Regions from separate parts of the Homo sapiens genome. Here regions 2, 3 and 4 are each linked to region 1. The links come from fine-mapping of genetic effects on gene expression. A gene starts in region 1. Each other region holds a variant in brackets. All regions are shown on one strand. Distances are between the middles of the regions.

What was found. PIP is the estimated chance that this variant, and not a neighbour inherited with it, causes the effect.
Region 2: its variant is fine-mapped to the expression of MSANTD3 in whole blood (INTERVAL, PIP above 0.99).
Region 3: its variant is fine-mapped to the expression of MSANTD3 in whole blood (TOPMed, PIP 0.97).
Region 4: its variant is fine-mapped to the expression of MSANTD3 in whole blood (TOPMed, PIP above 0.99).

What each region holds. Positions count from the first base shown.
Region 1 is chr9:100,423,288-100,431,397 of GRCh38, forward strand. MSANTD3 (Myb/SANT DNA binding domain containing 3) reads left to right here and starts at 3,856. Exons shown (of 3, transcript NM_080655.3): 1 at 3,856-4,106. RefSeq lists silencers at 3,693-3,922, 3,963-4,192, 4,233-4,352.
Region 2 is chr9:100,450,078-100,458,187 of GRCh38, forward strand. MSANTD3 (Myb/SANT DNA binding domain containing 3) reads left to right here. Exons shown (of 3, transcript NM_080655.3): 3 at 480-1,657. The coding sequence ends at 889. All of the region lies in intron 1 of MSANTD3-TMEFF1 (MSANTD3-TMEFF1 readthrough), which reads left to right. Among named protein-coding and RNA genes, the nearest start is that of MSANTD3-TMEFF1, 12 kb to the left of the region's middle. RefSeq lists a silencer at 5,530-5,824. The variant T/A (reference allele first, on the strand shown) is at 5,028.
Region 3 is chr9:100,133,421-100,141,530 of GRCh38, forward strand. All of the region lies in intron 3 of INVS (inversin), which reads left to right. Among named protein-coding and RNA genes, the nearest start is that of INVS, 38 kb to the left of the region's middle. RefSeq lists an enhancer at 6,786-7,359. The variant A/G (reference allele first, on the strand shown) is at 3,171.
Region 4 is chr9:100,481,330-100,489,439 of GRCh38, forward strand. The region is part of intron 1 of MSANTD3-TMEFF1 (MSANTD3-TMEFF1 readthrough); the gene reads left to right. All of the region lies in intron 1 of TMEFF1 (transmembrane protein with EGF like and two follistatin like domains 1), which reads left to right. Among named protein-coding and RNA genes, the nearest start is that of TMEFF1, 12 kb to the left of the region's middle. The variant A/G (reference allele first, on the strand shown) is at 3,481.

The DNA.
Region 1 (8,110 bases):
TAATCCCAGCTACTCTGGAGGCTGAGGCAGGAGAATCGCTTGAAACCAGGAGGCGGAGGTTGCAGTGAGCTGAGATCATGCCACTGCACTCCAGCCTGGGCGACAGAGCAAGATCCGTCTCGAGAAAAAAAAAAAAAGAAAGAAAAGAAAAGAAAATTTTGTTGAAACCAGGCTGGGTGCAGTGGCTCATGCCTGTAATTTCAGCACTTTGAAAGCCTGAGGTAGGAGGATTGCTTGAAGCTTAGAAGTTCAAGACCAGCCTGGACAACAAAGAAAAACCCCCTTTCTACAAAAATAAAAATTTAAAAAATGAGTTGGGCATGGTGGTATGCTCCTGTAGTGTCAGCTACTAGGGAGGCTGAGGTGGGAGGATCGCTTGAGCCCAGGAATTTGAGGCTGCAGTGAGCTATGATCATAACCTGCACTCTGGCCTGGGTGACAGAGCAAGACCCTGTCTCTAAAAGGAATAAAAAAGGAAAAAAAAAAAAGATGTCGTTGAAATCAACTACTATATCAAGACTGCTTGGTGAGCCTGGATCCTAGCAAAAAAGATACAATATGTATAGCTATTCTCAGCAACCTGTGGAGCGCAATGCATCACTCATCTCCATCACAGGAATGGATCTCCTGAAGGGACCCTCCAGCATTTGAAAAAGGGACAAGTCACATGGATGAGTTCTTTATGGTTTTCTTTTCCTAGACTCTGTGTAGACGCTGCCCTTCTGTTAACACTTTCTACAAAGAAACTGTAATAGCTTTATTATTGATAAAATAGCTCACATTTATTGAGTGTTTTCTCTGTGTTTTCAAGAAACCTATTTAATTTGATGTAAGTGATCCAAAGTAAAAAAAAAAAAAAAAAAAAGAAAAAGAAGTCAGTTGTCCAAGGTAGCATGCAGAACTAAGTCAGGGATCAAGGAGAGAGCTGGGAAGGCAGCCACCATATTGCAGGCCTGAGTAGTTACCCTGCCCCATTAGTTTTTAAGATAGTCTGCTCTCTTTGTTTGAGGAGAGACACATGACTAAATTTGAGTTTCCCATGTCTCCTTAGCAGTACACCTACATGTGGCTCATGTCAATCACCATTATTTATTTATTTATTACAGCATTAATTTTTTTATTTTTAAAATTTTATCTGTTTATTTATTTTGAGACCAGGTTATGAGACTGGCTAATTTTTGTATTTTTGGTAGAGATGGGGTTTTGCCACGTTGCCCAGGCTGGTCTTGAACTCCTGGGCTCAAGCGATCCACATGCTCCAGCCTCCCAAAGTGCTGGGATTACAGGCATGAGCCACAATCTTCATTATTTAAATCAATAAAATAACACTGATCATTTGCTGAAGTTAAGACTAGAAGCTTTTATCTACCCAGCCAGGTAGGCATCATATTCCCATCTTAGAAATGAGAAAACTGGCCGGGCATGGTGGCTCATGCCTGTAATCCCAGCACTTTGGGAGGCAGAGGCGGGCGGATCACGAGGTCAGGAGATCGAGACCATACTGGCTAACATGGTGAAACCCCGTCTCTACTAAAAATACAAAAAAAATTAGCCAGGCGTGGTGGCAGGCGCCTGTAGTCCCAGCTACTCGGGAGGCTGAGGCAGGAGAATGGCGTGAACCCGGGAGGTGGAGCTTGCAGTGAGCCGAGATTGCGCCACCACTGCACTCCAGCCTGGGTGACAAAGCGAGACTCCGTCTCAAAAAAAAAAAAAAAAATGAAATGAGAAAACTGAGATTCAGGAGCTTAACTTAGTTCACGTTTATCTAGTGCTTTTTCCACACTGTATCACTTTATCAATCAAATTTCCAATCTGAATTGACCTTCCAATGTCACACCCCAATAGTTTTCCCTTGACCGTATCTGCATGTAAGAAGGGAATCTTCATGGACTTATAATATGGCACTAAGTGGAAAACAAGTGTAAATGATGTACAGCCTTGGCTTTCGGTGTGGTATCATAGCTTGTTTGCTAGCACATTGTAGCAACTCCCCTGGTATAATTTTAGTTTCCAGGCTCTCTGGACAATTTCAAGGCCTCCTGGACATCAGACAAATTATTGTTAAAATAATGAATGAGATGCCTGTAATCCCAGCACTTTGGGAGACTGAGGTGGGCAGATCACTTGAGGTCAGGAGTTCGAGACCAGCCTGGCCAACATGGCGAAATCCTGTCTCTACTAAAATTACAAAAATTATCCAGGAGTGGTGGCACATGCCTATAGTCCCAGCTACTTGGGAGGCTGAGGCAGGAGAATTGCTTGAACCCGGGAAGCGGAGGTTGCAGTGAGCCAAGATTGCACCATTGCACTCCAGCAGACTCTGTCTCAAAAAAAAAAAAAAAAAAAGAAAAGAAAAAGAATGAGGACCAGTATAGCTCTTAGTTTAGGGTCTTTATTTTTATTGGTGCTTCTGCCCTGGATTGTTTTTTGAGGGAAGAAAGAAAGGGTTGCGTGATTCTTTGTACATAGTGAAAACCTAGATCAGTTTTTACTTTAGGGCTATGGATAGTGGGAGTTGGGAGGGCAAGCAATAGTCTCAAAAATGTTCAAGGAATTAAAACACAAAAACGGAAAATTGCAAGTGTTGACAAGGTTGTGGAAACTTGGAACCCTCAAACATTGGTGATGGGAATGTAAAATGATTCATTCAGCTGCTGTGGAAAACTTTTTGGCAGTTCCTGGAAAAGTTAAACATAGAATTACCCTATGACCCAGAAAGTCCACTCCTAGGTATGTATCCAAAAGAACTGGGAACAGGTACTCAAATATGTGTACAGGCATGTTCAGAGCAGCACTATTCACAATAGCCAAAAGGTGGAAGTAACCCAAATATCTATCAAGGGATGAATGAATAAACAAATTATAATATACACATACAATGGGATATTAATCAGCCATAAAAAGGAATGAAGTACTGATCCACGCCTCAACATGGATGAATCTTAAATACAGGCTAAGTCAAAGAAACGACACAAAAGGCCGCATATTGTATGGTTGCATTTATATGAAATACCCAGAAAAAAGTAAACTCACAGAGATAGAAAATAGCTGAGTCGTTGCCAGGGTCTGGAGGAAGGAGGGACTGGGGAATTACTGCTTAATGGAGTATGGATGTTTCAGAACTAGATAGAAGTGGTTGCTCAACATTATGAATGTAATAAATGCCACCAAATCGTTCGCTTTTAAGTGGTTTATGTTATGCGAATTTCACCTCAAAAAAAAAAAAAGTTAAAAAGCCTTCTCTGCCTTTCTCTGGGGTTGGAGTCTTCCCAATGGATCCAGGGCAAAAGAAACATCCAGCCACTCTGTTTGCGGGAGGAGCAAAGGGTGGCTTGTCCCGACAGTTTGAGCTGTTGTGCATGCATTTACACACGCATTAATTCCAAATGAGTCAGCACAGTGTCCGAGACAGGTCCTGGGCTCCAGTGAGCACAGTCGCTCTCCTGGGGGAGGCACGTTCCACAAATTAACAGAAGTTCTGATAAACTCAGCATAGGGGGATTCGCTGTCCCAAGTATCAAGGAGTCCTAAAAGAAAAGGGCCTATTTCAGTCGGGGGACCTGGACTGAACTAACTCGTGTTCATGGCCGCCAAATCCCGTGTGACAAATGTATTCTTTTGTTGTTCATAGAAATAAAACAGTTTTTCGGGCCGCTTCAGGAGCTCCTCTGCAAAGGTGGGGAAAAAAGGCAACTAAATCAGCACGAGGACGTCAGCCCGAGGATGTCAGGAGCGGGGTCGGTGCGGACGGGCAGGTGGGCGGGGGGGCACCCCGCGCCCCGCCCCAGTCCCCTGGAGGCCGGCGGCCGCAGCTCGGGGAAGTGGGGACTGGCGCGGGGCCGCGCTCCCGCCCTCCTCGGCGGCGCCGACGGACCGGCAGGCGGCGGGCGGTCCGCGAGGGGGCGGCGGCGTCCGGGCTTTGTGGCCGCGGCGCGCGCGGCGGGGCCTGGCCGGCCGGGGGCGCGCCGCCGCCGCCGCCGCCGCCCGGCGTTCGGGAGCCCGCGGCCCTCCCGGCCGCCCTGCTTGCGAGAGGAGCCCAGGCCGCCCGCCCTCGCGCCTCGCCGGCCCCTCCCCCGGTCGCCGCGGCTGCCGCGCCGCCGCTGCAGGTAGGAGGCTCCCCTTCCGGGCGGGCCGCAGCCGGGCGGGGGCGGGGGTGGGGGGCGCGGGCCGGGCGTAGAGGGGGCCGGGGGCCGGCATGGAGGGTTTTCGGGCCGAGCCGCTGCGACCCCGGCCTTGCAGGCTGGGCGCCGGGCGGCCGCCTCTGCGCGCCGCGATGGGACTCGGTGAGTAGGGCCGGCCTGCTGCCTACAAAGCCCCGGGGCGCGGGCCTCTGGGGTACTCAGTGGCGCGCCCACGGCTGGGAGCGGGGTGGGCTTTGGACTCCCGGGCTCGGGGAGCTGCTCGGGGGGAATCCAGGTGACCTGCAGTACCGCGGTCTTCCCATCCCGGCGTCCCCACTGTGTGCTGATCACTGTGCTCGGCGCTTTTCCATACTTGTCTCCTTTAAGACCTCCAGTGCCCCGCCCGTCCAGAGTGTAACGGGAGGGATCCCTCACTTGCAGGATGAAGGCCGAGCATCACATCCTTGCTTGACTGACCTTGGGAAAGCTCCTTTACTCCGAGCCGGGGCTACTGTTTCTGTAAATTAGAGGCGGGGGTCGGGGGGGCGTGGTATAATATCTACCCTCAGGTACTATTGTGAAAGATAATGTATGTAAATGATAACAGCTAAATTTTGAGCACTCTGTATGTACCAGGCCCTAGGTACTAAACAGTTGGCATGAATTATCATTGAATCATCACCCTGGCGCTGTGAGGTAGTTACTGTAAATTGCATGAATAATCTTTATTTAGGAGTACGAAACAGTGAAGAATTTAGTCTCCCTATTCCGATTCAGGAGGTTGGGTATTTCTTAGGCGTGATAACATTTAACATTACAGACGTTCCTGCAGTATCGAGGAGAGTAGTTATAGGATGCAGGGATATATTTGTCATACATTTAAAACTGGAGGTAGGATAATATCAGGGCCAGAGAGTGTGCCTTTCAGCATGTCAGAGCAGATGATTGTATTCCAAGGAAATTGCTGAATATTAATTAAAAAACATAGTTTCTGAGTTAGGATTGAGGATGGCTGTGGGAGTCCAGGGCCAGAGAGAGACATGGGATGGACAAGGGGGAGAAGAAGGATTCTGAAGTCCTGGAGGAAGATGTAGAGGAAGGCACCAGGGTTCACCATCCCTCCCCTGCAGCATTGCTGGGCCAGATTTCATCCCTCCCGTAGAGACCCGGGCTAGGGGACAAAGGCTGCTGGGGCAGGGGGTGGGGAGGGATGTTATAGGTTGTCTCTTTTTACTCCCAGGCCGCCAAAAATATTCAGATTGATGGAGGGTCAGGTGATTGGGCCTCCTAAAATGCCATTATCCCTTCTCACAAAATTCTTGTGTTTCAGGGCATGGGGATGCTTGCCAGCCCTAATGGTTGATGAGATGCTTAAAATACAAAGGTCTCACTGATATAATGGAAGAGTGCATTTTCAACACCATTCACTGGGTTAGAGAAGTAATGGGCCTGAGGAGATTATTTTGGGTTTAGAATGGGGAGAACTAAAAAGGCTTTGGATCCTGAAGAAGGAAGAGAGGCAGGAAGGGCCCAGGCACTGCACCTGTGGGGAAAGGCAGGAGAAGAAGGAGCTGAGGACTTCACCCCACCATCTGCAGAATACCCAACAGGCTGTTCAGTTCTCAGCTACCAAGGGGGCACCCTTTCCTCTCCCAGTTGGTGATGATTTGTTAACGTATTGTGGAAGATCAAGGGCTGGACTCAGGCACTCCTGTCCTGAGTGAGTAGGAAAGACGTCTGGGAGAAGGGTGGTTTATTTTGTTTTTAACCAGGCATTGAAGCAGAGAGTAGGTGGGTACGTAGCGATGGTGAAGGTAGGGAACATCATGCATACTTGGAAGAGCAATTGCTTTGGAGAGATAGACAGTTTGGGGTTTGAATCCTAGCTCTGCCATTTCTTAGCTTTGTACATTTTTTGTGAGGATAAAATAATGTTTTTTCACATATCTGGCGTGCAGTTCAACAAGCACTAGTACCGTATTCCCTGTCCGTGATAACATTCATTCAACAAATGTCTGCTGAGCACCAGTCATGTGCTGAGTCATATGTTACATCCTGGGGATACAGCGATGAGTCAGAAATTATGTATTCCCCTAGGAATTTCCCAGTCCAGTGTGGGAGATGGACGCAAAGAGCAAATTGCAAAAAATATGGGAAGTGCTACAGTACAGTCATGTACAACTGTCAGTGAGCTCATAGAAGAGTAACTCATTCTGAGCCAGTGGGAACTCAGGGCCAATCTATATCTAACAAGGTGAGTATGAGACCTTATGACACAGGTTTTTGTTTTTTGTTTTTGTTTTTTTTTTGGGGGGGGACAGTCTCGCTCTGTTGCCCAGGCTGGAGTGCAGTGGCATGATCTCGGCTCACTGCAGTCTCCACCTCTTGGGTTCAAGCGATTCTCTTGTCTCAGCCTCCCAAGTAGCTGAGATTACAGGCACCTACCACCACGCCCAGCTAATTTTTGTAGTTTTAGTAGAGGTGGGGTTTCACCATGTTGGCCAGGCTGGTCTCAAACTCCTGACCTCAGGTGATCTGCCCACCTTGGCCTCCCAAGGTATTGGGATTATAGGCGTGAGCCACCGTGCCCAGCTATGACACAGGTTTTGAATGCTCCTTTACCACCTAACTTTGATCTCTTTTACCTTTGTCTTATCTTTGCCCTGCTAGTCTCTCCTCTCTCTCTCAAAAAAAAAAAAAAAAAAATCTAGTTGCAGTGTGTGTGTAATTTGTAAGCTGCTTCAAACCCATTTTAGAAGGAAGCCGTTATAAAGAAAATAAACATAACAGACTGGGTATTAATTGAGGAAGGCTTAACAAAAATTGCATGAGAGTTGGGCTTTGAAGATTGAAAATGGGCCGGGCGCGGTGGCTCACGCTTGTAATGCCAGCACTTTGGGAGTGAGACTCTGTGTCAAAAAAAAAAAAAAAAAAGAGAGATTGAAAATGGGCCCTTGGTGGCCTTGGGGTAAAGGATTCCAGCCAAAGGAAGCCGCGTGTTGAGTTTGGTCTGGTTAGGTTGAAAATACATGGAGAGAATGAGGGGCTGGTGGGGGTGCTATAATCAGGACCAGATCCGGAAAGGCCATGAATGCCATGTGAAGAGTTGGGACTTTTATCGTTTAGGCAGTGGGAGAGACGTCTGAGGTTTACAAGGAGGCCTGTGGCTTGATCACTGTGTTTTAGGAAGATCCCTGTAGTTGTGTGGAAGAGGGTATGGAAGTTTGGGAGACCATTTTAGAGATTAGCTCTGTCCACAGACATGGGCAGTGAGAATGGGAGAGGAGGGAACAGATGTTTGGGTAAAATGTACCATAGGTCTTGTTAATTAGTTGCATGTGATTGAAGATTACATTTCTGCTTTGGGAAGCCAAGTTGATGTGGCTGACATCATCAGAAATCAGGAGATTTTGGTGTATGGGGAATAATTAGTTTGGTTTTGGCTATGGAGAGTTGGAGTTTTCTGAGGTACCCATAGTGGGGCACAGAGGTGGCTGATAGATAATTGGAAATGTGTTTGATGCTAAGGAGAGAGGTTGAGGCTTGGAAGAGAGGTTCTTCCATCACTGCCACTTTATTCTTTTTCTTTTTTTCTTTTTTTTTTTGTTTTTGAGATGGAGTTTTGCTCTTGTTGCCCAGGCTGGAGTGCAACGGCGCAATCTCGGCTCACCGCAACTTCCACCTCCCGGGTTCAAGCAATTCTCCTGCCTCAGCCTCCTGAATAGCTGGGATTACAGGCATGCACCATGATACCTGGCTAATTTTGTATTTTTAGTAGAGACGGGGTTTTTCCATGTTGGTCAGGCTGGTCTCGAACTCCCGACCTCAGGTGCTCCTCCCACCTCGGCCTCCCAAAGTGCTGGGATTACAGGCGTGAGCCACCATGCCTAGCCTTTTTTTTTTTTTTTTTTTAAAGAGACAGCGTTTTACTCTTTCACCTAGGTTGGAGTGCAGTGGTGCAATCATTGTTCACTGCAACCTCAGATTCC
Region 2 (8,110 bases), 27 kb after region 1:
TGTGACCAGGAAACAGCAATAGCACTCTTGCAAAGATTACATATACGTGTTCATAGCTGAATGAGAAGTTGGCAAAGCATGATCAGACTGATAGAGAACTTAATTTGAAGATCCACACTGGCCTTGCATTGTGGTCCTACGCTCATCAGAGTTGGGCATATTTCAGTTTAGAATATCAACATAAAAAGGTCTCTGATTCTTGATAAAAATGGTTTCTGACCACGGATCCCATACTTTGAAGTTCTAGAAATAACCTAACAAAACCCCTTATCATTATTTCTTAAGAAAAAATTGCTTTTGATTTGTGGGTTTTTAAAAAGTCAGGTGTGGCTAGGGTCCCTGTAGACATGAAGACCAAAGCAGACATGATTTTAGATACATCCTGTAATGAAGGACCCTGTCATTTGAAATAGGATTGGTTTTTTTTTTTCTCTGCCTGTAAAATCTTTGAACATATGTTTTCTGCTACTGTTTTTCAGAATCATTTGCTGTTTCAAATAGAGAACTGTGCGATGATGAGAAAGAGTTCATACATTTTCCAGTATGTGAGGGGACCTCTCAACCTGAACCCTCGTGTTCAGCTGTCAGAATAACAGCCAATAAAAACTACAGGAGCAAAACCTCTCAGGAAGGTGCTTTAAAAAAGATGCATGAGGAAGAACACCATCAACAAATGTCCATCTTACAACTGCAACTGATACAAATGAATGAGGTGCATGTGGCCAAAATCCAGCAGATAGAGCGAGAGTGTGAGATGGCAGAGGAGGAACACAGGATAAAAATGGAAGTTCTCAATAAAAAGAAGATGTATTGGGAAAGAAAACTACAAACTTTTACCAAGGAATGGCCTGTTTCCTCATTTAACCGGCCCTTTCCCAATTCGCCCTAAGACTTTGGGGGTGGCTCTCTTGTAATTAATCTGTGTTGGCAAAGAATGTCTGGAACATGGACTTGGCGGTCAGTAACCTGTAACAGAGCTACAACTAGGAAAATTAGAGTGGTAGTAGTCACTTATTTAAGAATTCATTCAGGTAAACAGCTGCACCCTCTGTACCCCTTAAGTGGCAAAGAAGCTGTTATAGTCTTCTGAAAATTATCACTATGAGTGCTATAATTCTGAATATAATGTCTCTTAATTAGAATTCATACAAGAACCACGTGTGAGTGTTGTTGTTGTTGTTTTTTTTTTTAATCAAATGCAAGTGTGACTATAAAGGAGTGTGGCTGATTTTTTTTTTTTTCTTTTTTCTTTTTAAACAGACAGCAGAACTTTTCTATCCAAATGAATGCCGTCCCATGGAAAGTGGCTGTCCTGGGAGGCTACACGTTTCTCCAATGGTGATGCTGTTGCTCAGAACTTGCTAGAGGTCTTTAGGGAACCTCCGTGAGAGCTGCAGCACCTTTTTAATTTTCTCGGTGTCATCCTCTGAGTATGGATTTTCTGTTTTTAAACAGCCCAAAGTTTAGAAGGGTATTTTCTAATGTGGCTCATAAACCACCTTTTAAGGCCTTTCCTCAAACAGGAGTTCTAAATAAGTCTCCAACAATAGTAGTTTTGTTGGAGCTAAGGATGTAACTACTTTGAGGAAGAAATGTTCGTTTAGATTTCTACATTCTGTTATGTTGGTTTTATTAAAAAAAAAAAAAAGACTTGCAATTTTATAGTCACACTGTGTATGTTTTTTAAAGGTGCTGCCTTCCCAGCTGTGCTCCAGTTTTTCTCTTCTCTCTCTAGTTTCCTCCCAGCTTTGTACTACTGAGTTGATAGTTGCCCTTGCTTTTAGTCTTTAGCTACCAAAGGAAAGGCCCTTCCCTCACCATGCTCATGGTGCTAGCCAGTAGTAATGCTTTGTAGCTGGCATTACATAATTAGCATTGGGCCTTTTGAGGATCCATTACCAACATATTCGGAAATATGGATTGATAAATGGATATTTTGACTGAGCTGCAGTATAGCTTCTCCTGTAGCCTCTTGTTAAAAACAGCCCCGGGTGTTGGGGACAGCAGTAGCTGGAAGCAGCAAAGTGACACTTAAGTGCCAAGGCAGATCAGCAGTTTCTGACAGTGAGAGTTCAAGGCCATGTGGTGGGGAAGGAGGAGTATATGTGGCAGAGTCCACATAAGTGGTATAGGCCTTGGAGTCAGGGCCTGAATTCTAAGCTCAACTCTCCGTCAAGTTGCCGTATGAATGTGGGTAACTCCTTTTAACCCTTGGTGTAGTGTTTCCTGTCCACAGAACAAGGGAGTTGGGCTAGATGACGTTCCAAGTCTGTTACAACTTCTTGGCTATGGTGTGGTCTGTATAGTCTTTTTTTTTTTTTTTTGAGACGGAGTATCACTCTGTCGCCTAGGCTGGAGTACAGTGGCACCATCTTGGCTCACTGCAAGCTCCACCTCCCAGGTTCACGCCATTCTCCTGCCTCAGCCTCCCGAGTAGCTGGGACTACAGGCGCCCACCACCACGCCTGGCTAATTTTTTCTATTTTTTAGGAGAGACAGGGTTTCACCGTGTTAGCCAGGATGGTCACGATCTCCTGACCTCGTGATCCACCTGCCTCGGCCTCCCAAAGTGCTGGATTACAGGCATGAGCCACCGCGCCCGGCTGGTCTGTATAGCCTTGGATGAGTACTGCCCACATCATAATCAGCTGGAGAGCATGGGTCAATAGGGAGAAATTGTTTACTGCAATGGCTAACCTTCCCTCCTGCATAATTTTGGAATTTGGGGACTGGGGACCATAAGTTTGGTAAGGTACACATATACTTGCTATTTATGCACAGCACACAAAACGGGTATGAATTTATTTTAAACACCGAATTATATTTTCAATGTCTTAGAGGAACTGGTTATTTGAAGAAAGCCTGTGAAGACTAGTCTTCTTTGAAAGAAAAGATCCTTTTGTAAGGATTTATGTTCTTAATTTAGTTTTTACCAAATGGACCCTTTTAGAGAAAGAAGCATCAGGATAAAGTCCCAATCTTCAGTGGTTTGTGGAAGAGAGAATCTGATGATTCATGCCCTCCTACCCTGTTAGAATTAGGACAGGGAATGGCAGACCCTAAACATACATGTGAACTGAGCAAAGATTGCCTTTGCTTCACCTATTGACACATTTAAGAACCTCGTTTTATAGAGAGTACGGAGTGGGGTCTGAGATTCTACATTTCTTACAAGTTCCTGGTTTATGCCAGTTCTGTTTGTCTGGTCACCACACTTCTGAATAGCAAGGTTTCAGAGGACTCTATGAAGTTTTTATTTCTCAAAAATTTGGCTTAGGTACATCTTTACATACAGTGGTGCTAGATATTATTCTTTCAGAACTTAACCATGCAACAATGCAGAAGAATACAAAAAATGCTTGCACACAGTAGTGTATTTTAATGGAACTATAAAAGCATTGAACTGATTCCTAACTTTACATATAAAGGATAATTAAACCAGCAGCCTAAAGCACCTTGCTCTACTGTTAATGGTACTTATGAGTTTATAACAGTAGCTTCCAACCTTGGCTATGCATTAGAAACAGCATTTTATAAATGATTAGTCCCACTGCGTCCCATTTCCACAGGATTCTGATTCAATTTACCTGGGCTGGGGCCTTGTCCTCTATATTTTTCAGAAGCTTTACAGGGGATTATGATGCATAATTGGGATTGAGAATCACTGATGTAGCATTCACAACTGTGTCTCATTTTATTCTTAATCCCATGAGGCCATGCAGAAGGAAGGAAATGATGCTCAAAGAAGAACCACCTGGTGTCAAGCAGATAGCTAGCGAATGGCAAAGCAGAACCTCAATCCCAGATTTCTTGACTCCAAAATATGTAGTCCAAACTGCCTGCCCTTGTCCCATTCCTTGAGCTCTATCATGAATTGGTTTTATCCTGAGAGTCAGATCACATTACAGGGTACTTGTTTCAGTGTCTCCATTTGTGAGCAAGTATATCACAATTCATTTCACTTTTGAGCAGTTTCTTACCCGAGGTAGAAATGCAATAACCATTTCTTGGTAGGTGGTGTAGGGGATAGACAGGTAAATATTAAGACACAGTTCATCATCCCCCACCTTGGCAAATTACGGACACAGCCCAGTAGGGAGTATAAGGGTTGTACACAGCTATCATGCGCTTGATCAGTGCATGTCTTCAAAGTGCACTTGTACCTCAGCAGAGAGCTAAGAAGCATGAAGGAAGTCTTCATGGAGGAGATGGCACTGGAGCTAAGTCTTCAGAGTCGGCATTTTGGCAGGTGGAGATTGGGAAACCAGAGGAACTTCACTAGATGCAAGGTCCTGTTGAAGATTCAAGGTAATGAGACACATAATTGAGAGGGAGTGACAGCATGGGGAATTTCTGAGTTTGGGCAGTAATGTGATCAGAACTGTACTCCAGGAAGAAGAGTAGAAGAAAGAACTGAGTGGAGAGAAGACTGGAGTAGGGGATACGTAGGAGGGTTTGTCCCTGGTTAGGATGAGATGATAGCAGGACCCAGAAGAGGTTGCAGTAAAACCAAGAGAGACAGCCGGGTGCGGTGGCTCACGCCTGTAATCCCAGCACATTGGGAGGCCAAGGCGGGTGGATCACCTGAGGTCAGGAGTTCGCGAGCAGCCTGGCCAACATGGTGAAACCCCGTCTATACTAAAAATACAAAAAGATAGCCAGACGTGGTGGCAGGCGCCTGTAATCCTAGCTACTTGGGAGGCTGAGGCAAGAGAATTGCTTGAACCCAGGAGGTGGACGTTGTAGTGAGCCAAGATCACACCATTGCACTCCAGCCTGGGTAACAAGAGTGAAACTCCGTCTCCAAACAAACAAACAAACAAACAAACCCACGAGGGAGATCAGTGTGAAGGGCATTGCCAAAGTGGAATCAGTAAGGCTTGGCAGTTGACCTTGTTTGTTGGAGAGAAGGGATAAGATTTTAAAGCTACATGTCTGAAAGAATGATGCTGCTGATTGAAATAAAGGAAGAAAGGATGCATTTCGGGCTCCAACCTGTCCTAGGAAGGCCTAGACCTCAAACACCA[T/A]CACCTCCATGCATTTCCTCTTTGGCTACTATGTCTTTTCCCTGACTTCTGCCTCTCCAGCTCTCTGGGCTGCTGCTTCCACCTGTTCATCTGACTTAGACCCTCCCTGCTGGGTCCTTGTTCACCTACTCATTTGGTGCTTCGTCTGCCATCAGTACCTCCATTGCAGCTGGTGGGATGTCAGTCACCATCTCTTATATTTGCTTCCCACTAGAAAGATCAAGAGAAGTTATTTCTTTCCCTTGCGCTCCAATTTTTCTCTAGACAGTTGGTATCCACAATTTTAAAAAATGTTCCATGTTGTATAAACAAGCATTCGCTGAGAGGGGCTGTTAATACACATCGTGCCCCTTTTATAAAAATTCATGCATGGAATCCTACATTATTATGCATCAAAATCTCCAGAAATGTCTTAGGATTTTTGCAGGGAGAATATTAAATGCATTGTTTTGCTTTGTTTTGAAGAGACTAGATGTGCAGAGGAAGAGAGGTGGCATGGTGGGAGGGTACATTTGAGTTGTCAACAGTCTCTGCAGTGTCAGGTCAATTACATCAGCACTTGGACTGGACCAGGGAAAGGAATGATTCTGCTTCCTGGGAATGTCAGAAGGACCTGATGATTATATTTGGCAAAGCCAGGAGGAGTGGCTTTGAATGTCATTGCTAAGAATTACACTTTGAGTAGCATTTCTGGATGTCTGAGCTTTTCAAATGATACTTCTTTTCTGCTGTGGCTTTCCTTTCTGTTGGACTGGTTCCCAGAGGGTCCTCTTGTTTGTCCTTGCCCTCGCTTTTATATCAGTTCATGTTTTCTCTTCTGTCATCTTCCTTCCCAGCGCTGTTTCTCCACCCCCTCCTGCTGCACTCACAACAGCTTCCCCTCTCCTGTTTAGAGGTGGAAGCATGTAAGAATGCGTTTGAGGGGGATGCTTGCCAAAGGACAGCATATTCAACATCTGGTATCAACAAGGTAATGTTTAACCTTAGACTAGCCAAACTAGTGATGACCTGCTTCCATGCTGCATCTGCTGCTTTTTGTGTTGATGGGACTCAGAAATCATGAGAAAGGTCTTCAGTGATCCATGACTGCAACAAATTCTTTTCCTAATTGTGCCGTATATTATGCCCCTCAATACAACTTACTAATCTCTGCCTCAGTTTCTCCATCTGTGAAAGTGGTGTAATACTTATCTACCTCCCTTGAATGTTGTGAAGATTAGTATATGTTGGTAAAGCACTTTTAAAATAAAGAATGATATAAAGCATTGAATTGTTGTGTTTGGGATGTGGGTGCCCTCCTGTAGAGAGGCTGCCCTGTAGGGGAAGTATCCCAGGTGTACCATGGTTTAGGAACACCCAGTGTACAAAACTTCCATTACAAATACAAGAGTGTGATTGTTTCCTTTCTTTCTTTTTTAACTTCATCTCAGGCTCTACTTTCAGATTATTTTCTTTATGAAAAATTTCAACATGGCATTTCTTTAAATAGGCTTTTGGTGCATTTAATATGAGATTCAATTTATAGAAGTGATTTATGGAAGATTTAAAAGAACACATCTATTGAACCTCTATTACCCAATATAACTGTTGGGTTTGCAAGCTGATTATTAATCTAACAGTGAAGTTTATCATCATTAGGTGGAAAACTTGGTTTCTGCATTATCCAGATGTCCAGATTGTATATGAAAGTTCTCTCACTGTAAGTACTGATTGGAATGGACAGAATGTGATCTTGTTACTTCCGAATGAGAGGATCTGCAGTTCCACTTCTAAAATGCCCTTACAGCACAGCCAGTTTTGGGGGAAAAGACTAACCATGCATGCTCACTAAAGGGCTGACAGTCAGTCCATGAGATAGGGAAATGGAATATGGGTTCTCTTTCTTAGCTCCTGGTGACTGCTAAGAGATTTAAGTTGGCTCTGGTCTGTTTTCTTTTCTATGGGTTTTTTGGGGGGAAAATTCAAAATGCTGTTAAGAGATTTTTTTTTTTCTGGCTGGGTGCAGTGGCTCACACCTGTAATCCCAGCACTTTGGGAGGCTGAGGCGGGTGGATGTAATCCCAGCACTTTGGGAGGCTGAGGCGCGTGGATCACGAGGTCAGGAGTTGGAGACCAGCCTGGCCAACATAGTGAAACCCTGTCTCTACTAAAAATACAAAAATTAGCCAAGTATGGTGGCGCATGCCTGTAATCCCAGCTACTCAGGAGCCTGAGGAAGGAGAATCGCTTGAACCCGGGAGGCGGAGGTTGCAGTGAGCGGAGGTTGCAGTGAGCATAGATCACACCATTGCACTCCAGCCTGGGTAACAAGAGTGAGACACTGTCTCAAAAAAAAAAATTTGTTTTTTTTAAATCTAAAGACTACTTGCTATGGGGGAAATACTCTAAGTAGCAGTGGAAGGTAAGGCTCTAGTTCTTTTTCTGTCCCATCATCTGGTTCAGCTTCCAGCATAACCAAAAAGGAAATTCAGAGGCTGGTGCTGTGCATATAGATTTAGATTCTTAACTATGAGTCTCCAAAGAGTTTCTTGGAAGGGGCTGGTTGGTCTTCAACATTCTGTGGGACTGGAGGCAGTTGCCCCAGTCACTCAGGCATTGAGAAATCTGGGGTATGGCTGGGGCAAATGTCTCATGTGGTCACCTTTATTTCCAGGCTGAAGGGGCAGGAGCTATCCAGGGAACCTCTTCTCAGGACAGAAGTACAAAAGGGCAAGCGCAACTGTAGAAGAATATTTTATGATTCAGTGTTATATCTGCTAACATCTCCTTGGCCAAAGCATGAAGCTCTAAGTCAGGAGGAGGGAAGTAGACTCCTCCTAAGAAGGTGAGGAGAGGAGGAACAATAATCTAATCTACCACAGAATCACAAGTGGGAAGAAAACTAGGGGGATACCAAGGAGTTGAGATTATATTATAAATCAAGGAATGGGGAACCCAGGGAACAAATGCGTCCTCATTCCTCATTTTCTACTAAGACACTTCTTCATTACTGCTTTCCTTCCTCTAAATTTGTTTTTCATTTAGTGGGGGAGGCTTTAAAATGGTGATAATAATAGAAAACCCTTCATAGGGTTGTTGGATTA
Region 3 (8,110 bases), 290 kb before region 1:
GGTATTATACTGTGTGACATTTACCAACTTGCTTTTTCAACTTAATATTATGTATTTGAAACTTCTTCATGTTGAAACATGTAGCCCTATTTCATAAAAGATTATATCCAGATGCCTAAAAGACACATGAGATGGTACACAACATCATTACTAATTAGAAGCAAATTAAAACTCCAATGAGATACTACTACATGACCAGTGGAATGTATAAAGTAAAAAAGTCTGGCAATCAATATTGATTGATGGTGAAGATATGGAGCAACTGGAGCTCCCCAACATTTTTGTTGAGAATGTATATTGGTACATTCACTCTCGCAAACTATCTGACTATATCTGCCAAAGCTACACACACACACACACACACACACACACACACACACACACATACACACATCCCTCATCTCAATTCATGCTCCCAGCCCCGGTAATACCTAAGAAAAATAAGTGCCTCTTTCTACTAGAAGACATGTATGAGAATTACATGATAGTTTTATTTAGAAAAGCAAACATTCCTTTTTTTAACTTCTATTTTTCCATAAGTTATTGGGGGTAAAAGTGGTATTTGGTTACATGAGTAAGTTCTCTAGTGGAGATTTGTGAGAACCTGGTACACCCATCGCCCGAGCAGTATATGCCGCACCATATTTGTTGTCTTTTATCCCTTGCCCCCATTCCACTCTTCCCCCCAAGTCCCCAAAGTCCACTGTATCATTCTTAGGCCTTTGCATCCTCATAGCTTAGCTCCCACATATCAGTGAGAACATATGATGTTTGGTTTTCCATTCCTGAGTTACTTTACTTAGAATAATAGTCTCTAATCTCATCCAGGTCATTGCAAATGCTGTTAATTCATTCCTTTTTAAGGCTGAGTAGTATTCCATTGTGTATATCTATACACCAGAGTTTCTTTATCCACTCGTTGATTGATGGGCATTTGGGTTGGTTCCACAATTTTGCTATTGTGAATTGTGCTGCTATAAACATGTGTGAGCAAGTATCTTTTTCGTATGATGACTTCTTTTCCTCTGGGTAGATACCGAGTAATGGGATTGCTGGATCAAATTGTAGTTCTACTTTTAGTTCCTTAAGGAATCTCCACACTGTTTTCCATAGCGGCTGTACTAGTTTACATTCCCACCAGCAGTGTAGAAGTGTTCCCTGAACGCCCCATCCATGCCAACATCTACTGTTTTTTTATTCTTTGATTATGGCCATTCTTACAGGAGTAAGGTGGTATTGTGTTGTGGTTTTGATTTGCATTTCCCTGATCATTAGTGATGTTGAGCATTTTTTCATGTTTTTTGGTCATTTGTGTAACTTCTTTATAAAAGCAAATATTCTTAATAGTGCAGACAACCCAAATACGTACCAACAGGTGAATGAGTAGCTAAATTGTGATGTATTCCTACAATGGAACACTGCATGAATGAACTGCTGACACGTTCAACCACATAAGTTAATTTCATAGACATTATGTTGAGTGGAACAAGTCAGACACTTATAAAAAATTTATTTGCTGTTCATATCAACCTCAGGAACAAGAAAAACTAATCTATGGTGAGTCAAATCAGATTTGTGGTTACCTAAAAGATGGGTAATATACTGAGAAGAATATGAATAAGCTTTCAGGGGTGCTGAAAATGTTCTGGATCGGTGTGTGTGTTGGTTACATTAAAAGGTACCAGTCTGTATGCTTAAGATTTATGCACTTTACTGTATATGTTATATTCTCAATTTTTAAAGTATTATTTAAAAAATGATAAAATGTTCAGAACTTGGTAGACATTATTTGTAGGGAAGGTAAGGGAGGACGGAACCAAGAATGGTTCCTGACCTAGACTGTTAAGCACTCAGGTCAAATTTCCCCCATCCTTAGCCTCAGGAGCTATATGAAAGCCCTGTGTCTATGCTCTTATCCAGGGGTTCTTAGATGAACATGCAGCAGAATCACTTGGAGAACTTGTTAAAACATAGACGTCTGGGCCCCACCACCAGTGTTTTTAATTCAGCAGGGCTGGTGTGGGGCCAGAGAATGTGCTTATCTAACAAGCTCCCAGGTGATGGTGATGATGTAGGCAACACACTTTGAGAATCACTACTCTATTCTGCTTATACCATTTGTCTTTGCTGCATTTTCAATGCTATTGGCTCCATAACCTCTAGATACCTATCCTGTTTTACTGGGGACTCTTTTGACTGGTATTCCTAGCTCTTGATGACATGACTCATAGAGGTAGGATATACTAGTCCAGGTACAATTTTGAGAGGAAGTTATCGAGTTCAGTTGTGAAAAATGGAATTTTAGGCTTCGGTGATAATGACTAGTATGAATTGTGATAGTTTGCATCTCCAAAGTAAGGTCTTGGCTGGAGTTATTAGTATACATATAGAAACCATAGAAGTAGTTGAAGGGCTCAGGTATGGTTTATAGATGGGAAGAGGACTAGAAATAGAAAACACCAATATTTAAGGTTTATTTACAGAAAATAAACTTACAAAGGAGACAGTACAAGATAGGAGAAGAACTAGATCAGAGTGGTGTTATGGAGCCAGAGGGACAGGTTTCAAGCAGAAGAGGATCCATTTGTTTCATCTTTTTTACTATGATGCTAAGATTTGAATAGTTCCTTTTCCACTAAATGACTCAATAAATGGATGGATATAAATATGATAAGAATTAAAAGGCTTCCACTGGATTTTTCAGTTAGAAAGTGACCTTAGCAAGAGCAATGGTATTTAGTGGACACACAAGCTAGATATATATCACTGTTGAGTAAACAGGAAATGAGGATATGGAGACAGTACGAGTGATTGATTAATGGGGTTATTGATCAGGAAAAGTATGGACGGAAGAAATTGTGGTGGGAAAATTTTTAATAAATAATAATCTCTCCCAGTATAACCGTCACCCACTTTCAATAAATATTAATTCATAAACTTGTTTCTGTAGACTTCAAACTGTTTTATTATATATTCTATTATTTCATCCATAAATATTTCAGTATATTTATAATTCATATATCCCCACGATATCATTGTACCAAAAAGAAATTAGTGATAATTCTGTAATATTATTAAATACCTAATCAGTGTTCAAATTTTCCTGATTATATCTCAAACATTTTTTTACAGTTGATTTATTCAAATCAGGACCTAAACAAGGTCTATAC[A/G]TTGTATTTGGTTGATAAGTCTTTTAAGTCTCTTGTAATCTAATAGATGAGAGATATTTGAACACGTTTAAATGTTAAGGAAAAGGAGACATCAAAAATTTAGGAGAAAGAATGGATTATTGATGGATCAAAGTCGCTGGGGAGATGGGAACAGAAAGGACAGTCGGGTCTGGGCACAGTAGCTCACGCGTGTAATCCCAGTGCTTTGGGAGGCTGAGGTGGGCAGATCACCTGAAGTCAGAAGTTCAAGACCAGCCTGGCCAACATGGTGAAACCCCATCTCTAATAAAAATACAAAAATTAGCCAGGTGTAGTGACACACGCCTGTAATCCCAGCTGTGCGGGAGGCTGAGGCAGGAGAATCACTTGAACTCAGGAAGCAGTGGTTGCAGTGAGCCGTGATCGCGCCACTGTACTCCAGCCTGGTCAGCAGAGGGAGACTCCTTCTCAAAAAAAAAGGACAGACAGTTGGAAAGTTTAGATACACAGTAGGAAAGTTTGTTCAATGAATGAGTATGCTATGAACTTAGAATGTATCTGAATATTCTTGACAATCAATTATAAAATATGAAAACTGGAAGGGCCTTGGAAATTATTCTTATTTTACACATGGGAAAACAAGGAGTTCTAGGTTTTCTTTTGATTAGAGGGAGATGTTTTGTCCCTAAAGCAGGGGAGACTGGATAGGAAAGGAAACCTTAGGAATATAGGGGACCACTGCTGCTCCTCTCACACCTCCCCAGACCCTAACACCCTTGGTTCCATTAAACTCCTAAACTTGGGCTTCAGGAACAGAGGAAGTGAGAAAGCTAGTGTTTAATGATAACTTGTTTTTTCACTGCATAACAAGGACCTTGTTATTTTCTGGTGCTCTGCAGAGTAAATATAGCATAATGAAAAAGAAATGGTATCTGGTATCAGAATTTATAAGATCTATATTCGAGTCATAATTCAAAGACATTTGGTACTCTGTGACCTTGAGCAGGTAGTTTAACTCTCTAAGCCTCTGTAAAATGGAGATAATATTTCTAACATACTTACATCATAAGATTGTAAGTATGAAAATACATTGAAATACTGATTGATGTGTATGCCAAAGACCCTGAAAGGCAGCAAAGTTATACATAGTGTTTACAAATATATATGAGTATGAAACATCTGAAAACCATATAAATAATCTCTTTTGCAAATATAGGTACTTTTTCCAATTGTATTTAAAAGTTGATGTGATTAATTGATGTGATTAAGAAAATGGCATTTCATTTAAAATTGTAGCTGAATTCAATTCTCATATTTTTTCAATGAACCAACAAATACTAAATTTAAACATTAAGGTTCTACTGAATTTTTTGTAGGATTTTTTTGCTGTTTTTTAACTTTAAAAAGAGTTAAACTTTAAAAGACTGAGAGTCAACGTAATAATATATGTGTATAAAGTGCTTTATTTATAAGTAACTTTAATTGAGAATAACAGCAAGTAGGTATAGCCATCTAGTGACTTTAACTTTCTTTTTAAAATATATGTAACTCCTCAGCCAGGCATGGTGGCTCATGTCTGTAATCCCAATACTTTGGGAGGCTGAGGCAGGTGGATCACCTGAGGTGAGGAGTTCGAGACCAGCCTGGCCAATGTGGTGAAACCCCATCTCTACTAAAAATACAAAAATTAGCTGGGCGTGGTGGCACGTGCCTATAATCCCAGCTACTCGGGAGGCTGAGGCAGGAGAATCGCTTGAACCCAGTGGGTAGAAGTTGCAGTGAGCCGAGATCGTGCCATTGCACTCCAGCTAGGGTGACAAGAGCGAAATTCCGTCTCAAAAAAAAATTTTATATATATATATATCCTTATACATTTAACCCTCAGAGCAACATCTTTTTATTCTTTAATTGGAAACATTAGATTTGAGTTGAAGAAACATTATCATATACTTCAACCATTAATGTTTCTGTACCCAGCTTCTACCCTTTCCGGCTCTGTCATTTGCTCAAACAAATCTGTCTTATTTAAATCAAAAGAGTTGCATATAGGCACTTTTGATAAAGAGTCTTTAACCTTGAAATTTTATTGATTTCGACTTTTGTTTTTAAATTATTTTTATTGATGGTTTCCTTTTTTTTTTTTTTTTTTCCTTTCAAGAGAGAGTCTCGCTCTGTCACCCAGGCTGGAGTGCAGCAGCACGATCTCGGCTCACTGCAACGTCTGCCTCCTGGGTTCAAGCGATTCTCCTGCCTCAGTCTCCGAAGTAACAGGGATTACAGGGGCCTGCCACCACGCCTGGATAATTTTTGTATTTTTAGTAGAGATGGGTTTCACCATGTTGGTCAGGCTGGTCTTGAACTCCTGACCTCAAGCAATCCACCTGCCTCAGCCTCCCAAAGTGCTGGGATTACAGGCGTGAGCCACCGCGCCCGGCCTTATTGATGGTTTTCCTTGTCAAAACATTATTTAATCAAAACAGATGAAAGCATGTAGGGAGAGATTTCTTTTACAAACATATTTTGTGCTTCTTTGTTTTATATTATAGGGTACAGAAATGACTTATTTGTTGTTGTTGTTTTCATGATGCACAATGTGACCTAATTTACCTAGGCTTACTCTTTTCTCAGTTCTCGTACTTCTGTGTTTCTCTGATTCATTGATATATTGACCACTTGTTCATTTCAGAATTTTCTCTGGACTTTGATACTGCAGTAACTTATTTTTCTGCTACTCCTTTGATAGTTCATTGTTTTCTTTATTAACTCCTTTCCTTTAACTCCCATTTCTGCCCCAAGATAAAAGTCTTTCTATATATTCTACCTTTCAGAGGTCTCATCTACTTCTATAAGTTTCGGCTATTTTCCCTCAAATATTTGTCTCTAGCCCTAGCCTCTCCCCTTATTCCAGACTTATATTTCCAGCTATCTTCTAGAAATCTCTACCTGGATATCTTCCCAAAATCTCAATTTCAGCATATCTGAAACAAGACCTTACCTTTTAACCTGTAATCAGTCCCGTCATCTGATTTTTAAAAACAATTTATTGAGGTGAAATACACATAGCATAAAATTAACCCTTTTTTTGTGGGGGGAGATAGAGTCTCACTTTGTCACCCAGGCTGGAGTGCAGTGGTGTGATCAGGGCTCACTGCAGCTTCAACCTCCTGGATTCAAGTGATCCTCCTGCCTCAGCCCCCAAGTAGCTGGGACTATAGGCACGTACCACTACGCCCAGCTAATTTTTGTATTTTTTATAGAGACAGGGGTTTCGCCTTATTGCCTGGGCTGGTCTCAAACTCCTGAGCTCAAGCTATCAGCCCGCCTTGGCCCACCAAAATGTTAGGATTACAGGCATGAGCCACCGCACCCAGACAAAATAACCACTTTAAAGTGAGCAATTCAGAGAAATTTTGTACATTCGTTATGTTGTGCAACCACTACCTCTATCTAGTTCCAAAGCATTTCCATCACTCTCAAGTAAAACCACTTATCCATTAAACAGTTTGTCTCCATTGCCCTCTCTCCCTAGCCCCTGGCAACCACCAGTATGCATTCTGTTTCTATGGATTTATAGATATTTCATGTAAAAAGGAATCATATATGACCTTTGTTTCATGCACGTCTGTGTAAAGAGACCACCAAACAGGCTTTGTGTGAGCAACAAGGCTATTTATTTCACCTGGGTGCAGGCGGGCTGAGTCTGAAAAGAGTCAGTGAAGGAAGATGGGGTGGAGCTGTTTTATAAGATTTGGGTAGGTAAAGGAAAATTACAGTCAAAGGGGGGTTGTTCTCTGGCGGGCAGGAGTGGGGGTCACAAGGTGCTCAGTAGGGGAGCTTTTGAGCCAGGATGAGCCAGGAGAAGGAATTTCACAAGATAATGTCATCAGTTAAGGCAAGAATAGGCCATTTTCATTTCTTTTGTGGTGGAATGTCATCAGTTAAGGCAGGAACCGGCCATCTGGATGTGTACGTGTAGGTCACAGGAGATATGATGGCTTAGCTTGGGCTCAGAGGCCTGACATTCCTGTCTTCTTATATTAATAAGAAAAATAAAACAAAATAGTGGTGAAGTGTTGGGACAGCGAAAATTTTGGGGGATGGTACGGAGAGATAATGGGCGATGTTTCTTAGGGCTGCTTCGAGCGGAATTAGGGGCGGTGTGGGAACCTAGAATGGGAGAGATTAAGCTGAAGGAAGATTTTGTGGTAAGGGGTGATATTGTGGGACTGTTAGGAGAAACGTTCGTCATTTAGAATTACTGGTGATGGCCTAGATACGGTTTTGTATGAATTGAAAAACTAAATGGAATAAGAGAAGGAGAAAAACAGGTATTAAAGGACTAAGAATTGGGAGGACCTAGGACATTTAATTAGAGAGTGCCTAAGGAGGTTCAGCATAGTTCTGCCAGCAAAGATTATTTATTTACTTCAAGAGTTAAGAGTGGCAGTTTGGGGATAGCTCCAGGAGATATCAGCTGTGATGGCTTGGAGAAACAGTGTAAACCAGCAGTGTAAACAAGAGCAGGGCATGTGTGAGTAGTTGAGAACAGTGAATAGGAGTATGATTAGACAGAAGATAGTAGGGATGACAAGTTTTTTGGGGCACAGTCCAAGTTGGTCTTGGAATGATACTGGGGCCTAATAAAAAGGAGCATCTATACAGGAGCTTAAATGAGCTGTACCTTGTAACATTCTGAGGACAGGCCTGAATTCTGAGAAGGGAAAGTGGTAAAAGTATTGTCTAGTCCTTTTTAAGTTGGTGGCTGAGCTTGGTGAGGTGTGTTTTTAAAAGACCGTTAGTCCATTCTACCTTTCCTGAAGACTGAGGACCGTAAGGGAAATAAAGGTTTCACTGAATACCAAGAGCCTGAAAAAATGCTTGGCTGATTTGACTAATAAAGGCCGGTCTGCTATCAGACTGTATAGAGGTGGGAAGGCCAAACCGAGGAATTATGTCTAACA
Region 4 (8,110 bases), 58 kb after region 1:
AGTTAGGTTCCCATTACATATTTATTTGTGGAATAGATTAATGGCTGAATGAACATAGAAGCTGAACATAGATGAATGAACATAGAATACCTCTTAGGAAGGGTATTCTAGGCTGAAGGAATAGCTTTAGGAAAGGCACAAAGGTGGAAAAGAGAAGGGAGTCTTTTCGAAATACTAAATTGCGGGGATTAAGGCAGGAGATTATGCCACCACATTAAGGTCTTCAAGGCCCATCTGAAGTTTTGGCATTTGGTTCAAAGACATCAAGAAGCTTTTAAAGGGTTTGAGTGACATTATGGTTTTAGAAAACAAAGTCTGAAATTGGTGAAGATGGAATGGAGAAGGGAAGAGCCTGGCGGTACGATGAAAGATAATGGTAGAAATGGGAAGAATTGAGAGGACTTGTTTAGCCTGCACAGGTTTTTTGTTTATTTATTTATTTATTTTTATTTTTAATTGTTGTTGTTTTTTGAGACGGAGTCTAGCTCTGTCACCGGGCTGGAGTGCAGTGGCATGATCTCAGCTCAGTGCAACCTCCGCCTCCCAGGTTCAAGCGATTCTCCTGCCTTAGCCTCCTGAGTTGCTGGTACTGCAGGCGCATACCACTACGCCCAGCTAATTTTTGTATTTTTAGTAAAGACGGGGTTTCACCGTGTTGGCTAGGATGGTCTCGGTCTCCTTGTGATGTGCCTGCCTTGGCCTCCCAAAGTGCTGGAATTACAGGCGTGAGCCACTGCGCCCAGCCTAGCCTGCACAGTTTTTTAAAAAAGTTACATTGGTTGTTAGCCATTAAAAATCTGGAGGTTTCACTTGGCAATCTATTTTTCTGCCGACTCTTCTTCTTCTTCTTTTCTTTTCTTTCTTTCTTTCTTTTCTTTTTTTTTTGGAGACAGTATCTTGCTCTGTTGCCCAGGCTGGAGTGCAGCGGCTTGATCTTTGCTCACTGCAACCTCCACCTCCCAGGTTCAAGCGATTCTCCTGCCTCAACCTCCAGAGTAGCTGGGATTACAGGTGCACGCCACCACGCCTGGCTAATTTTTGAATTTTTAGTAGAGACGGGTTTTCACCATATTGGCCAGGCTGGTCTTGAACTCCTGACCTCAAGTAATCTGCCCGCCTCGGCCTCCCAAAGTGCTGGGATTACAGGCGTGAGCCACCACTCTGGCCTGCATTCTCTTCTAAACTTGGAGGTACTGTCAGCATTGGGCTTTTATTTCCACATTGCAAAAATCAGTCAGTGCTGTCTAGTGAGGCATGAGCTCTTTACTTTGCCCAGTCCTCAACCAGCCAGCCTCTTTTATTGATCTTTTTCTGCCTAAACTTCTGGATCTTCTGCTAGAGATGGTGGGGTGAGTTGTGATGCTCTTAATTTGAGATGGAGAGCCTGTTTGGAGGAGAGTCAAATTGGTGTACATTCCCTCATTCCTGTTATTCACAATTATATGTTTGGATGGGAGACCTTATTTCTCCAGTGCCTAGGTGTTTTGGTCTGAACTCCTCTCCTGCCTGTACTCCTTGTAACTTCCACTGTATTGTTCTTCTTTTTAACTCTTTCCTTGAATCCACTTCCTCCTTTGTATTTGAAACCTACCCTGCTATCTCTGATTATACCATTGTCCTTGAATCACTCTCTGATGTTTTTATGTCTATTTTTTTTTCTTAATTTTATCCCTTAAACTTTCCCTTTTGTCTCTTTCTAAATTCTTTAGGTGGATATAGATCATTATGTTTCTTTAACTCCATTGTCATTTATGATAAAATTTCTCTCATTGTTGTGAAACACATGAATTTATATATGTTACAGATGGGTTTTTTCATGATTTTGCGTTATGGTCTAAGAATGTGTCATATGGAATCTCTGGGTTTTCATATTAAAACTAGGTGCGTCCAGGCACAGTGGCTCATGCCTGTGATCCCAGCACTTTGGGAGCCCGAGGCGGGTGGATCACCTGAGGTCAGGAGTTGGAGACCAGCCTGGCCAACATGATGAAAACTCGTCTCTATTAAAAATACAAAAATTAGCCGGGCATGGTGGCGCATGCCTGTAATCCCAGCTACTCAGGAGTTTGAGGCAGGAGAATCGCTTGAACCTGGGAGGTGGAGGTTGCAGTGAGCCGAGATCGCACCGTTGCACTCCAGCCTGGGCAACAAGAGAGAAACAACATCTCAAAAAACAAACAAACAAACAAACAAACAAACAAGGTGTGTCATTGTATTCTAGTATGAAAACAAATTTTGTGAAAGATTCTTCTATCCAGAAGAGTTATTTCCTTGACTTCTCAGTCTCCATGTTATATTAACTATTATTTTTACTTAAGTTTACTTTATTTTCATGTAATTTCAAACTTAGAAAAATGTTGTAATAGTACACCCAGATTCCCCAATTAAGATTTTACCACATTTGCTTTAAGTCTCTCTTTGTGTATCTACTCTTTCTCTCTCTATCGTCTGTCTGTCTGTTTTTTTTTTCCCCTGAACTTGGCTCTGTCAAGTTGGCCCCTACCAAAGGGAGAGGGTTAATTTATGTTTTAGTTCCATACTTTAAATTTTTTGTTTTGTCATCTCCTCTTAATTAAATAGTTAAACTTCCACTTATAATGATAGGTTTATTTTTCACAGTTTTTCAGTTTTTCTTATATTTTTGTTATTCTATGTAGGACATATACATTGAACATTATTTTGTATCATAATTTGTTGTACTTTTTACCTTTGTATAGAGTAGATTTCAAGTATCTCTTGAAGTTATCATAGGACCCAACCTTTTCTGAATTTGTGTTTATATTTTAGTTTTTAGGTGTTGGGATTTGTCTCCCAATAGAGTTATAGATCATTCTGCTTTCAGTGGCATTCAACTCATTTACATTAAATTAAGTAATTGATATCTGTGCTACCCTCCATCATCATCTTTTTTCTAAATTGCACAATCCAGTGTTTTCGACTATAGTCACAAGGTTGTGGAACATTTTCATCTCCTCCAAAAGGAACTTTACATTTTTTTTTTTTTTTGAGATGGAGTCTCTCTCTGTTGCCCAGGCTGGAGTGCAATGGTGCGATCTTGGCTCACCGCAACCTCTGCCTCCTGGGTTCAAGCGATTCTCCCTGCCTCAGACTCTCGAATAGCTGGGATTATAAGCGCCCGCCACCATGCCTGGCTAATTTTTTTGTTTTTAGTAGAGGCGGGGTTTTACTGTGTTGTCCAGGCTGGTCTTGAACTCCTGACCTCAGGTGATCCGCCTGCCTTGGCCTCCCAAAGTGTTGGGATTACAGGTGTGAGCCGCCGCGCCTGGCCAAGGAACTTTACATTCTTTAGCAGTCACTCCCCAATCCCCACCTCTCCTCATCCAGCCCTAGGCAACCACTGACGTACTTTTTTTTTTTTTTTTTGAAACAGTCTCTATCCTCCAGGCTAGAGGACAGTGGTGTGATCTTGGCGCCCTGCAACCTCCGCCTCCCCGGTTCAAGAGATTCTCATACCTCGGC[A/G]TGAGATTCAGGTGCCTGTCACTGCGCCTGGCTAATTTTGTATTTTTAGTAGAGACGGAGTTTCACTGCGTTGGCCAGGCTGGTCTCAAACTCCTGACCTCAAGTGATCTGCCTGCCTCGGCCTCCTAAAATGTTGGGATTACAGGCATGAGCTACCAACCCTGGCCATGATTTACTATCTTTTGCTGTAGATTTGTCTATTCTGGACATTTCATATAAATGGAATCATACAATATGACCTTTTATAATTGGCTTCTTTCTCTTAGCATGATGTTTTTAAGGTTAATCCATGTTGTAGGATGTATCAGAATTTCATTCCTTTTTTTTGACTGAATAATATTTCATTGTCTCGATAATACCACATTTTGTTTATCCATTCAGTATCCATTCATCTGTTGATAGACATTTTTTTGTTTTTACTTTTTGACTATTATGAATAATGCCACCATGGATATTCATGTACAAGTTTTTGTGTAAATACATTGTTTCATATCTCTTGGGTGTATGTATTCCACCTAGGAGTGGAATTCCTGGGTCACGTGGTGACTCCATGTTTAACATTTTGAAGATTTGCCAAACTGCTGTCCATGTAAAACTCTATGTTTAACATTTGAGGATTTGCCAAACTATTGTAAATGGTTGCAGCATTTCACATTTTCATCAGCTATGTGTGAACATTCCATTTTCCACATCCTCACCAACCTTTGTTATTGTCTTCTTTGTTATAACCAACCATCTTCATTTAAGTTCCTATTTGTTATCCTTCATTTTCCCTATATATGTGGTTTCTTTAATGGAATTTAAATTCTCAATTTCTTTTAAGCTGGATTGGGAGATAACTTCAACCTATTTATCCCCCTTCATTTTTTACATTGTTAGAAACATTGTCTTAACTTAACTATTTTCTTTATTCATATAATTCTATTATTAGCTTCTTGAGCATTTAGGGGCTTGGCATACTTCTCATGTACTTGGAAATTCTATACTTAAATCTGAAAATTCTCTCCGTATATGCTTTTAGTTTATTAGGTAACTTAATTTATTGTAATTCCTTTGCTACTATTCAAATTCATCTATTTTTTAAAAAGTATCATGTATTTTCCATGGCTCAGCAGCCTTGTCATTTTTTCAGAAGTCATTTAAGGTTCTAAAGTTCTTAACGTATTCTTGTACCTTTAAAAACTTTGGCAGGTTATTATATTTTCAACCACAGCTCAATTTCTCTCTCTCTTTTTTTTTTTTTGCAAATATTCTGAGTCTGTCTTTTCCATGGATTAAAAAAGGGAAAAAACCCACACCTTTTTTCTTTGTTATAAGAGCAGTATATAATCTGTGTAGAAAATTTGAGGAATATGGAAAAATATGAAGAGGAAATCTGGGATAATTGCCATTCTCTTCTTTAATCTCAGTGTTTATGCTAAATTATTTCATTTTTCATCAGAAAATTTTTGAACTTGAGTTTTGCTCTTTTTGCCCAGGCTGGAGTGCAATGACGTGATCTCGGCTTACTGCAACCTCTGCATCCCAGGTTCAAGTAATTCTCCTGCTTCAGCCTCCTGAGTAGCTGGGATTACCGGCGCGTGCCACCATGCCCAGCTAATTTTGTATTTTTAGTAAAGATGGGGTTTCACCATATTGGCCAGGCTGGTCTTGAACCCCTGACCTCAGATAATTGGTCCGCCTCGGGCTCCCAACGTGTTGGGATTACAGGCGTGAGCCACAGCACCCGGCCTGAACTTTTAAAAAAATATTCATGTTGTTTTGCTTTGCATTTTCTGTTTATGCTGGAGCCACTGTTGTTCAGAGGTCAGATCTCCTTCTGGGATGTTTTATTTTTATTTTTTGAGACAATGTCTCCCTCTGTTGTCAAAGCTGGAGTGCAGTGGCATGATGGCTTACTGCAGCCTTGACCTTCCAGGCTCAATTGATCCTCCTACCTCAGCCTCCTGAGTAGCTGAGACCACAGACGTGTGCCACCATATCCAGCTAATTTTTAAAAATTATCTTTTGTAGTTACGGAGTCTCTCTATGTTGCCCAGGCTGGTCTCGAACTCCTGGGCTCAAGTGATACTCCCGCCTCAGCCTCTCAAAGTACAAGCATGAACCACTGTGCCTGGCTAGGAATTTTTAAGTTCAGTTTATTTTTGCCTTGTCAGCTTTCATTTAATATTGTTTTGCACGTGAAACTAAACTGCTGATGTTGCTGTATCAATTCTGTTGTTTATAGCCCAGTTGATATATTTAGATTCTTTATTGTTCACAAGTCAGCTCAATCTTTTAGTGTCCTGTATTCATTTTCTATAGCTTTTTTTCTTCTTTCTCTTTATTTTATTTTTTAAAAAATTTTTAATTTTTATTTATTAGTATTTTTTGAGGCAGGGTCTCACTCTGTCAGCCAGGTTGGAGTACAGTATCACTATCTTGGCTCACTGCAACCTCTACCTCCTGGGTTCAAGCAATTCTTGTGCCTCAGCCACCTGAGTAGCTGGAATTACAGCTGCCCACCACCATACCTGGCTAATTTTCTTCTGTATTTTTAGTACAGATGGGGTTTCACCATGTTTGCTAGGCTGGTCTCGAATCCCTGGCCTCAGGTGATCTGCCTGCCTTGGTTTCCCAAAGTGCTGGGATTACAGGCTTAAGCCACTGCGCCCAGCCTCCTTCTCTCTCTAAAGTGGTTTGAGGTGTTTTCTAGGTGGTACACTTGTGTTTACCATTGTTTACTTCAAGGTTATACCATAAGCACATCCTAATTCCCATTTATTTAGACCTAGTTTTAAAAAAATTATTCAATGTTTTACAACAAAATTTGTCGGGGTTTCTGGTTATGGTAGTGTCTTTTTAAGTTTGTTTTTGGTGGTTTCAGCCAGAGTAACAGTCAGTTTTCTTCATAGTTTGCAGTGTTCTTTTATAAGGATCTCTTATAACCATTGGAATCCTATAAGGGATTATTATACTCCTTTTTTTTTTTTTAAATTCTAGGAAACTGGGATTCTCAGATTTAGCACTTGGTCAAGATCATATAGTTACTTTTACTTAATCAAATAATTGGAACCCCAAGTCTGGAACTCTTTCTAATGCACCAGAATTTTGTGAAGTCTTTAAAAAATTATCTTTTAAAATCATTAATACCAGGTTTTTCAGTGCCAGTATGCAAGTTGCTGTGTAGATTTTCATCTTTGTGGGTGATTTCCCTGGGTTCTGGCTACCTCCTATTCTACTTAGTGTTGCAGACACTAAGGGATAGTGGTTAGAAATAGAACCAGAGGACATTGTTCTTGTGTTTAGATTAATTATTGATTTAAAAAACAGTTTAATGAAGGAAATGTATTGAGTATACCTGCAAAATCTTATATATGTAAACCGGCATATGTTTCAAAATAATGGGATTATAACTGTATGTATAGTTTTACAATGTGTTTTTTTTCACAATAGGTCTTAGTTGTCTTTTCATATCACTACATGTGTTTCTACCAAAGTCTGTGTAGTATTATGTCAATAATTTAATTCCCAAAAGATAGACATTTAGATTGTTTTCTACTTTGGTTTTACAGAAAGTGCTGACGTTAACAATCTTGGACATAGGTTTTTGTATGTTTTTCTTTTATATCTGTTATAGTTTCCTGGAAATGTTGGGTAAAAGGATAAAGACAATTAAAATGGCAATGCATATGGACACATGAGAGGTTGTGCCACTATGTACTTCCACAGTTGGTTTGAGTGCTCATTTTTCTATACTTTCTCCAGAACTGGTGCTAATAAAAAACAATAGTAGCTTACACTTAATAGAGTACTTATTATGTGTATTATTATTTTGCTCTAAGTGCTTTCCATATCTTTAATCCTCCGTCAGAATTTTGAGATAGGTGCTGTTATTGTCCCCATTTTGTAGATGAAGAAATGGAGGCATAGGTGGTAAATTACTAAGCTCACACAGCTGTGATAAGTGGTAGAGCCGGGATGCTGGACAAGGTGGTCTGATGCCAGGGTGTCCCTCTTAAAAAACATATTATAATGCCTGTTTTTAATTTTTTTATTTCAATTTTTCCAAAATTTAAGCAGCATGATTTATATGATTTAAAAATTATTTCTATTTTTTATTGAGATAATTTTCATAATGTAAAATTCAGCATGTTAAAGTATACAATTCAGTGGTTTTCGTACATTTACTATATTGTGCAGTGATCATCACTATCTACCATCTAATTATAGAACATTTCTATCACCCCAGAAAGTTTCTACCTGTTAACAGTCAGTCCCACTACTCCACACCCCCATCCCCTGGTAACCACATAGAGACTTTCTCTGTGGATTTATTTATTTTGGATATTTCATATAAATGGAATAATACAATGTGTAGCCTTTTGTGCCTGAGTTATTTCTTTTAACATAATATTTTCTTTTCCTTTTTCTTTTTTTTGGAGATAAGATCTCTGTTCCCAGGCTGGAGTGTGGTGGTGCAATCATGGCTCACTGCAGCCTTGACCTCCGGCTCGTGATTCTCCTATGTCAGTCCCCCAGTAGCTGAGACTACAGGCATGTGCCACCACGCCTGGCAGATTTTTGCATGGGGGTTTCACCATGTTGCCCAGACTGATCTCAAACTCCTGGGCTCAAGCAATCCTCCTGC